Homo sapiens: one gene and its partners. The protein of the gene in region 2 purifies or fractionates together with the protein of the main gene of each other region. This does not show direct contact. Each region holds a gene or a part of one and is shown on either strand. Other genes may lie near its edges.

Region 1 (3,655 bases), on a different chromosome or scaffold from region 2:
AATATATAAGTAAATCAAAGAGCAAGGAGTAATTTTAATGAAGGATGTGAACGATTTGTATACTGAAAATTATAGCACATTGATGAAAGAAATTGAAAGTGACAAATAGAAAAAGTCCTATATCAATTGAAAAAATTAATATTGTCAAAATTTCAATGCTACTCAAAGCATTCTACAGATTAAATGCAACCGCTGTCAAATTCCAATGTCATTCTTCACAGAAATAGAAAAATTAGTCCTAAAATCTGAATGGAACCACAAAAGATGCTGAAAAACGAAAGCAATCTTTAGCAAAAAGAACAAACCTGGAGGCATCAGACTACCTAATCTTTGACAAAGCAAACAAGAAAATGGGAAAGGACACCCTATTCAACATATGCTGCTGGTATAATTGGCAAGCCACATGCAGAAAAATGAAGCCGTTCTTCAAAGGTTAAATACAGAATTACCACATGACTCAGTAAATTCACTCCTATGTATACACCAAAAATAAATTAAAACAAATGCCTTACACATAAAAGTATTTATAGCAACAAAAAGTAGGAAACAACAGAAATGTCCATGAATTTTGGAGTGGATTAATAAAATGTGGTCTGTCCATAAAATAAAATATTACTTGGCAATGAAAAAGAAAAACATATTAATACATGCTCCAAAAAGGATGAACATTGAAAACATGATAAATGAAAGTAGTAAGTCACACGTAACTATATTATTATGATTCCACTTACATGAAATGTCCAGAATAGGCAAATCCTTCCAGAATAGGCAAATTCTTAGGTAATAGATGGATGATTGCCTAGGGCTGGGAGAGGTTTAAAGGAAGAATGGGGAAAATAGGGAAAGATTGCTAATGGGTGCAAAGTTTCTTTTAAGGAGCATAAAAATGTTCTAAAATCATGGTGATTGTTTAACTAGTTAATACACTTAAAAAACTGAATTTTATACTTTAAATGAGTGAATTAAATAATATATAAATTGTATCTCAATGAACCTGTGAAAAAAGTTAAAAAATATGTGGTATGCATAAACAAAAAGTTCTTCATTTTATTTCCTAGGGTTTTGGGGAAAAGGTGGTGTTTGATTATATGAGTAAGTTCTTTAGAGGTGATTCAGGAGATTTTGGTGCACCCAACACCTGTGCAGTATACACTGTATACACTGCACCGGGGCAGGAGCTGGCTGCAATCCTGTGGCCCCAAATGCCCCCTTGCTGATGGCCTCGTGTTCTGGGTGCGGAGCAAAGAGGAGCAGGTGTTGAAGGCACCTCAGGCAGGCCCTGGGCTCGGTGGGCGTCTTGTGCTCCGCGATTTTGAGGCCATTTGCAGCCAGCTCCGTCAGCCCGAGCTCCCAGCTGCAGCTGCTGCCATGCACAACAGCACCGCCAGGAGTGTCCTGGGGGCTTTTTTCAAAGGAGGCTGTCAGCATCCTCAAGTTCCAGACGCTTAGCCCCAGTCCTCCTTTAAGAGGCTTTTTTTTTTTCACCAGAGGCTTCTCAGTGGCTTGAAAGCTCAGCTGACTCCCACGAAGTTTGCCGGAACTCAAGGCTGTCAGTGACATTCGTGGCGCCAAGACTTAAGCAGGCGCGTTGCATGCATCGGCCAGTGTCTGTGCCACGTGCCCTGACGCCACCTGAGATAAGCACGCCGCACGCGCACGCGCACGCCGCGCGCACACGCCCGGCAGCAGCTTGGCTGGCTTGTAACGGCTTGCACGCGCACGCCGCACGCGCATAACGGTTTGGCCGGCCTGTAACGGCTTGCACGCGCACGCCGCACGCGCGTAACGGCTTGGCTGGCCTGTAATGGCTTGCACGCGCATGCTGCACGCGCTTTAACGGCTTGGCTGGCCTGTAGCGGCTTGGCTTGGCTTTGCGTTCTTGGCTTGGCTTGGCGTTGGTAGCTTGGATTGACGTTTCCTGCTTGGATTGACGTTTTCTCTCTCGTGTTCCTTTGCTGGGCTTGACCTTTTCTCTGCTGGGTTTGGCATTCCCTTGGGTGGGCTGGGTGTTTTCTTGGGGGCGGGGGTTGGCCCTTTCTGGGGTGGGCGTGGGGTCGCCCAGGGGGGGCGTGGGCTTTCCTCGGGTGGGTGTGGGTTTTCCCTGGGTGGGGTGGGCTGGGCTGGAATCCCCTGCTGGGGTTGGCAGGTTTTGGCTGGGATTGACTTTTCTCTTCAAACAGATTGGAAACCCGGAGTTACCTGCTAGTTGGTGAAACTGGTTGGTAGACGCGATCTGTTGGCTACTACTGGCTTCTCCTGGCTGTTAAAAGCAGATGGTGGTTGAGGTTGATTCCATGCCGGCTGCCTCTTCTGTGAAGAAGCCATTTGGTCTCAGGAGCAAGATGGGCAAGTGGTGCTGCCGTTGCTTCCCCTGCTGCAGGGAGAGCGGCAAGAGCAACGTGGGCACTTCTGGAGACCACGACGACTCTGCTATGAAGACACTCAGGAGCAAGATGGGCAAGTGGTGCCGCCACTGCTTCCCCTGCTGCAGGGGGAGTGGCAAGAGCAACGTGGGCGCTTCTGGAGACCACGACGACTCTGCTATGAAGACACTCAGGAACAAGATGGGCAAGTGGTGCTGCCACTGCTTCCCCTGCTGCAGGGGGAGCAGCAAGAGCAAGGTGGGCGCTTGGGGAGACTACGATGACAGTGCCTTCATGGAGCCCAGGTACCACGTCCGTGGAGAAGATCTGGACAAGCTCCACAGAGCTGCCTGGTGGGGTAAAGTCCCCAGAAAGGATCTCATCGTCATGCTCAGGGACACTGACGTGAACAAGCAGGACAAGCAAAAGAGGTAACCAGGCCTGGGCTGGGAGGAGGTGGGACGTGGGGGGATGATGGGGACATACCCTCCTGGCGGGGGAGGAGGGGGACCTGGCTTTCTCGCCTCCGCAGGCCTCACACCACCCTGGATGTGGAAACCTCAGAGAGGTCAGGGTACAGGGCCCTTTATGAACAGCAACACAAAAACAAAACTTTAGCTGATTTCCAATCATAATTTCCCTCATAGAACACTAATAGACTGTTTTAAAGTGATTTAACTTGCAAAATTAATTAAGTCAATGCAGCAGATTATTTTTAATCTACAGATTTTAAAACAATGTTCTATACATTATAGAAAAGTGTATATTGAGAACTAAGAACGAAGCCCCATAACACATCAACTTCAGGGCTAAATATTCTTCAAATAAAATCCAGTATGGATTTTATATCAATGTACAGTATGTAAATATGTTCTTTACTGAGGAACCTTAGAAGGAAACTGAAATGGGAAGATGGTTCCTGTGCTTGAACAGGAAGATTGAATTTTCTTAAGATGTGAGCTTTTTGGCTGGGCGCGGTGGCTCACGCCTGTAATCCCAGCACTTTGGGAGGCGGGCGGATCATGAGGTCAGGAGATTGAGACCATCCTGGCTAACACGGTGAAACCCTGTCTCTACTAAAAAATATAAAAAAAATTAGCCGGGTGCGGTGGTAGACGCCTGTAGTCCCGGCTACTCAGGAGGCTGAGGCAGGAGAATGGCGTGAACCCGGGAGGTGGAGCTTGCAGTGAGCCGAGATAGTGCCACTGCACTCCAGCCTGGGCAACAGAGCGAGACTCCGTTTCAAAAAAAAAAAAAAAAGATGGGAGCTTTTTCTATTTATCACTTTTACC
Region 2 (2,665 bases):
GGAGGAGGCCTGACCCCCACCAGCCACACTCCCGCCCTCTCTGCCCTCTGGCCCCACCTCCCCCTGTCTCCTGTCCTCCCTGGCTGGAGGGAGGGTACGGCCTCTGCCTGCCCAGCAGTGACCCTCTAACTGGGCCCCATCTAGCACATGGGCCCCTCCCTCCCTCAGCCCCCACAGAGGCAGCCTGTGGCCTCCTCCCTCCCGGGAAGTGCAGCCCAGGCTCAGGCAGGCGGGCTGCCATCTGGAAGACCAACGACGGCCTGCGGGTGTTCCCGTGGGGCCGCTCTTTCTTCTTCAGGTTCAATACTCCGTGCACCACGCGGATCGGACCCCTCCACGCCTGGGGGCCTGGACTTGGTTTCCACTTCCTGCCCTGGGACAACCCAGGTGCTGAGCCCCGGCCTGGGGCTGGCCTGGGAGGGGGCTGGACTCTGCTGGGGCCTGGAGAGGCCCAGACCTCATCCCCTGACAACTCTCTGGGCCGTGGGGCCAGACCCCGCTGTGGGGCCACAGGCTCCGTCTCCACTGAGGACTGTGTGCGCTCCAGAACGGCAGCCTGAGGCCTGCTGCGCATAGACCTGGGCCCCAGTCATGGCCTGGAGGGGAAGGCGGGGCCGCAGGCAGGGGCCAGGCAGCGTGGGCCGGGTTCTTGGAAATATCTTTATTGTCAGCAAGGCAGGGAATGGTGGGAACCAGGGTGTCCCGCTGGAGGGTCAGGAGGGAGCCACAAGCCGCCTGGGAGGCCGTATCCGGTCGTTGATCCAGTCCACATAGTTGGCCACGCGGGTGTAGACCCCCGGCTTGTGGAGCCGCCCGCAGCCGTCACCCCAGCTGATGATGCCGTAGAGGTAAGCCACGCCGTTCTTCTCGCAGGCCAGGGGCCCCCCTGAGTCCCCCTGGGCAGAGACGTTGGTCAGAGCCACCCTCCCAGGGGCCTGGTTCAGGGACCCCCCTCTCCCCCAAGTGGCAGCTTGGGGACAGAGGACAAAGGCATTTCTGAGCAAGGGAGCTGATCCACTCTCCTGAACCTCATGAAAAGGTGTCTCATTCCCTGGGGGCAGCACTGGCTGGGCCAGGGCATCCAACCACGTTATTCCCCTTCCTGAAGCCACGGTCCCCCTCTCCCCACCAGCATGAACCCTGTGTGGACCACACAGCCACCCTGTGTCCCAGCACCTCCTGAAATGACTTCTTCACTCCCTGGAAAACTCCTACGCATCACTCAGGACCAGTGCAAACACTCCCTCCTCCAGGAAACCATCCTGACTTCCCTTATCGAGGTCCAGTGACAAGCCCTACCCACTCTACCACTCCTGGGCTTTGTGGCCTTGGAAGAGTGAATTGACTGCCTGGGGCTCAGTCTCCCCAGCTATAAAATGGGGCATAAGAGAGCCGTCGCATGCCAGGGTTGCCGTGCCGCCTGAGCACACAGGCCTGCAGAGCCCAGGACGTGGTTGGGCTGTTGGGCTTATTGAAGGTTGAAGAACTTATTGAAGGTTGAAGAGCTGGCTTGAGAGAACTCGGGGCAAAGGGGCCTTTGGTGCCTAGTGTCACACGGAAAGCACTGCCTTGGGCTGGACAGCCAGGAACTGTCCGGGCTCTGTGGGACCCCAGGCCCCTCTCAGAGCCTGGGTCTCCCCTTCTGTGTGAGGAGGATGCCCTTCCGGCAGGGCTCTGGGTGGCCCTGGGGTGCTGGCCACCGACAGTAAGTGTGCTCCCTGCCCAGGGGTCCCTGGCTGGCCCTGCCAGGTTGGGGTGCCGCCAGGCTCTGGGCTCCCCAGGGGCAAGCATCTCGGAGACTCAGGACCAGCTGAGCCCCCACCAGTCGGGTCCTGGTGGGGCGGGCACCAGCTCACCTGGCAGGCGTCGGACTTGCAGTCGAAGTAGCCGGCACAGAGCATGTTGGGGCTGATGTCGGCGCCGTAGACCTCAGGGCTGCTGCACTTGTGGTCGGCGACCAGGGGGACCAGGGCCTCCCGCAGGGAGCTGGAGTAGCCGCTCACGTCTGTGGGACACAATGCCCTCAGCGTGACACCCACACTGTGGCTGGCCACTGTCCACCCTGGCGGGGCGCTGGGCGCCCCCCTCCCAACTCACTCTCATCCAAGTGGCCCCAGCCCGCAATCTGGCACTTGTGTCCTGCGGGGAAGGTGCTGCCGGGCTCGGGCAGGCAGATGGGCTGCACGAACTGCGAGCGTGTGGCACAGCGGTCCCCTTTCTTCTTCAGCCGGATCAGGACTGATCAGAAGAGTGGCCAGGGTCAGCCTGTGGTGTGCGGGCTGAACGGGAGGCTGTCGGGGCCCGTGGTGGAGGGAGGGTAGCCAGTGGGGTCCACAGGGCAGCCTGGGAGATCCAGAAGGGAGCGGTGCCCTGTCCTCCCTGCCCTGCCCCCAGCTTCCCCCGCACCACATGTCTGCCCAGCTCCTGCCCCTGTCTGGGCCTGGCCTGGGGAGCACAGGGCCCACCTGCCCAGAGTGCAGCCACGACACGCCGGAGCTCACCGAGGTCGTGGTCGCTGGGGTTGAACACCGAGTACAGGGTGTACGGGATGTACTTCTCGATGCCGAAGGTCTGCGTCACGTCCGTCGTGCGGTTGAAGAAGTGCTGGCCCAGCACCACGGAGACGCTGTCCCTGGGGGGGCTGTGCAAGGGGGGCTGGAGGCTG
Region 3 (3,655 bases), on a different chromosome or scaffold from region 2:
AGGCAGGGCGCAGTGGCTCACACCGTAATCCCAGCACTTTGGGAGACAAAGGCAAGAGGATCGCTTGAGCCCAGGAGTTCAAGACCAGCCTCAACAACAGGGCGAAACTCCACCTCTATAAAAAATACCAAAATTAGGCCAGGCTCGGTGGCTCACGCCTGTAATCCCAGCACTTTGGGAGGCCGAGACGGGCGGATCACGAGGTCAGGAGACCGAGACCATCCTGGCTAACACAGTGAAACCCCGTCTCTACTAAAAATACAAAAAAAAATTAGCCGGGCATGGTGGCAGGTGCCTGTAGTCCCAGCTACTCAGGAGGCTGAGGCAGGAGAATGGCATGAACCCGGGAGGCAGAGCTTGCAGTGAGCCGAGATTGCGCCACTGCACTCCAGCCTGGACGACAGAGCGAGACTCTGTCACAAAAAAAAAAAAAAAAAAAAAATTAGTTGGACACGGTGGCGTATGCTATGCCTGTGGTTCCAACTACTCGGGAGGCTGAGGTGGATCACCTGAGCCCAGGAAGCTGAAGCTGCAGCGAGCCATGATCGCGCCACTGTACTCCAGCCTGGGCAACAGAGCGAGACCCTGTCCCCCACCAAAAAAAACTATAAACGGGCATTATAGTCTAGTAATGATTGCACCAAAGGATGGTAATGATTCTAAGACATCCCTTTATTCCCATTAGTCATTTAGCAATTAAGTAGCAGCAAAGTTCCAAAATGACTACAAATCCCGGAATTAAATGAATAATTTTGTCTCTAATAGAGACATGTCTAAAAATCAGCTTTTTTTTTTTTTTTTTTTTTTTTTTTGAGACAGAGTCTTGCTCTGTCACCCAGACTAGAGTGCAGTGGCGCAATCTCAGTTCACTGCAACTTCTGCCTCCCAGATTCAAACGATTCTCCTACCTCAGCCTCCTAAGTAGCTGGGACTACAGGTGTGCACCACCATGCCTAGTTAATTTTTGTATTTTTAATAGGGACTGGGTTTCGCCACGTTGGCCGGACCTCAGGTGATCCACCCACCTCGGCTTCCCAAAGTACTGGGATTATAGGCGTGAGCCACCACGCCTGGCCTAAAAATTAGCTTTTTCCAAAAATGTTACCTTAATAGAAAGACATTCAATTCCTAGTATCAAATACTGCTTAGGAAAAGGTCTTTAATTAATTATTTCACTTTAAGTAATGAGTCCTTAGCATTTTTCTCTCAGAGTCCCTTGTTTTTTTCACTTTACAGTAAGATGTGATTAGTATGTTACTTTACAAATATGACGTTAGACGCCAGAATAATGGTTACAAGTGTCATATTTTCCCCACTGTTGCCCATTTAGGGATGGAAACCAGTGGACTGAACGTGAACTCATGCTTGTTTCTGGGATTCTGGTAATCTATTTATTTTGGTTGAGTGGTTACATGGGTATGTGGGTGCTAAATTTGTAAAAACTCACTAAGCTGTACATTTATAATTTGTACATTTTCCCATATACACTCCAGTAAAAGTTATGGTACACTAAAAATTACGTAAGGCAAAAAAAATTTTTAATCCTATTTTAAAATGCAATAAAAGAGAGAAAGCTTAATTATCAAATGTCAGACCATAAATAAAGCTTTGATCACAACCAATAACGTATAGGTAAGAAAGAATACTTTATCCTTGCTCAAAAAGAAAAAAATTAAGTGTTTAAATTAAGATGCCCTTTCAGAGGTTCCAGATTTCTACTCAGATGTATGAATCTCGATTAGCACTGATTTTGAATGTTTCAAAAGTTTGGCAGCTTGTTAATCACAATGGTAAATGAAGCATAAATTAAACAAATACTGTTGACAAATCCAGGAGATATCAACTTTAAAACGTATTCACATTGAAAATTTATACTTGAAAATGTTTCTTCTGGGTTGGTATTGTATCAAGTGACTAATGTGTCCCCACTGAAAATATAAAGAACCAAAATATTAATATAAGCACTCTAAAACCATTTCCATGCTGATTGAAACCATTATGGAAATATTTAGGTAAAATTACAATATTTATGTTAAAATAATATGAAATATTTGCATAACAAAAGCTTTAATATGTGTGATCCATTTTCCTTTGAATTCAAAATATACCTGCAGATGGAAACACACAAAGGTATTAAAAGCAGTTATTTCTGCTGGGAAGGAATATGAAGTCTTTCTTTTCTTCCCTTTCTGATTTTCAAATTGTATAAGTAGCAGGATTAAGCTTATATTTAAGAGAAAAAATTTTAAACCCTCGGTAAATCCATTATGGATATAAAAAAGGGAGAGTCGGGGGAGAGTTGTGGAAAGAAATGAAGTATAGGTACCAGAGATTGAAATCGGGTTTAGGGTATATTTGTAGAAATAGCAATTTTTGTCCACACTAATATTAAAATATTTTAAGAAAGCCATAAGCACAATATTCCCAGTGCCACGATATTAAAGAAACAGTAGCCTGCCATGTGTGGTAAAAATGGTACAGTACTCTGTGAATACACAATATATTTGAATTCTAAGAGAAAGGGAGAAATGTATCAGCACCTTACTAAAAAGAAATCTGACTTTTCTGTTAAACCCCATCTGGCCATAAAGTAACAAAATAAGACAATGGATTCTCTATATTTGTCATGTAATTCCTACTGAAATTTCCTTGTTGCTTCTGAAAAGATTCATTCCAGGGAAATAAACTGCTTTTATAAAAATCACTGTCAAAGAAAAAACATGTCCTTAAACAGGAAAAGGAACGTGGAAACTAGAAAAAAAAATAAAGCAGACAGAATATCACAATTTAATCATTTGGGTGCCTAGTTCTCTGGCTTAGATACCAGTTATGGTGCCCCAGTGCATATAAACTGCTCTAAAGGCTCACAGAAATGCTACTTTTAAAGCAAAGAAGAAATGAATGAGCAACCTACTAGGGTACATTGCAGATGGCACTCAATAAACATTTAATGAATGAGTAAAATCATAAGAAGGTTTAAACATAAAATAAACACCTTCAACAGATAGAGAAGAAATCTGCTGCCTAGGGAGTACCAGACAGAACTGTGCTGATCTCTTCACATTGTTACCGACGAGATTTCACCCACATATCCATTATGCTGTAGAATAGGTATTCACCTGACTAGGAACAGTTTTGTAGCTTATAATTTCACATACTTTCTGATATTTTCAAATGTTAATGATATCTCTACTAACTACTTCTGTAGTAAGCGATCTATTACCAACCTATTATCATGTCTCAAAGTACTACCTTAACTTGACCTTTTCACATGCTTTATGTCACTTGCATGACCCAGGCTTGACAGGGAAGGTATTATTAACCCTATTTTACAGATGAGTTTTTTTTTTTTTTTTGGCTTGAGACTGAGTTTCACTCTTGTCGCCCAGGCTACAGTACAGTGGCACAATCTTGGCTCACTATAGCCTCTGCCTCCTGGGTTCAAGCGATTCTCCTGCCTCAGCCTCCCAAGTAGCTGGCATTACAGGTGTGAGCCACCACGCCCAGCCACATCCTTCAATTTAAGAAAGCTGCTATTTAAAGGACACCTAAAATACAAACCTCTCCCACATACCCACTCTTCTCCAAAATTTGCTCAAATAGAACAATTAGGTACACTTTAAAGTTAACAGGAAATGACAGAAACAAAAATAGC

Evidence for each region.
Region 1: the proteins of HGFAC (region 2) and POTEF purify together in Homo sapiens (affinity purification with mass spectrometry; one large-scale study listed by BioGRID and IntAct). This does not show direct contact.
Region 3: the proteins of HGFAC (region 2) and PPP3CC purify together in Homo sapiens (affinity purification with mass spectrometry; one large-scale study listed by BioGRID and IntAct). This does not show direct contact.

The regions. Positions count from the first base shown.
Region 1 is NC_000002.12:130,119,134-130,122,788, reverse strand, and holds part of POTEF (POTE ankyrin domain family member F), read left to right. Parts: intron 1-1,490; exon of another isoform or gene 1,491-2,180; 5' UTR 2,181-2,273; coding exon 2,274-2,794; intron 2,795-3,655.
Region 2 is NC_000004.12:3,447,468-3,450,132, reverse strand, and holds the end of HGFAC (hepatocyte growth factor activator serine protease isoform 2 preproprotein), read right to left. Parts: intron 2,642-2,665; coding exon 2,502-2,641; intron 2,239-2,501; coding exon 2,098-2,238; intron 2,006-2,097; coding exon 1,857-2,005; intron 897-1,856; coding exon 714-896; 3' UTR 647-713; downstream 1-646. UniProt on the Homo sapiens protein: Serine protease that hydrolyzes the inactive zymogen hepatocyte growth factor (HGFsc) to an activated disulfide-linked heterodimer, then initiating hepatocyte growth factor receptor signaling pathway.
Region 3 is NC_000008.11:22,443,963-22,447,617, reverse strand, and holds part of PPP3CC (serine/threonine-protein phosphatase 2B catalytic subunit gamma isoform), read right to left. Parts: intron 1-3,655. UniProt on the Homo sapiens protein: Calcium-dependent, calmodulin-stimulated protein phosphatase which plays an essential role in the transduction of intracellular Ca(2+)-mediated signals. Dephosphorylates and activates transcription factor NFATC1.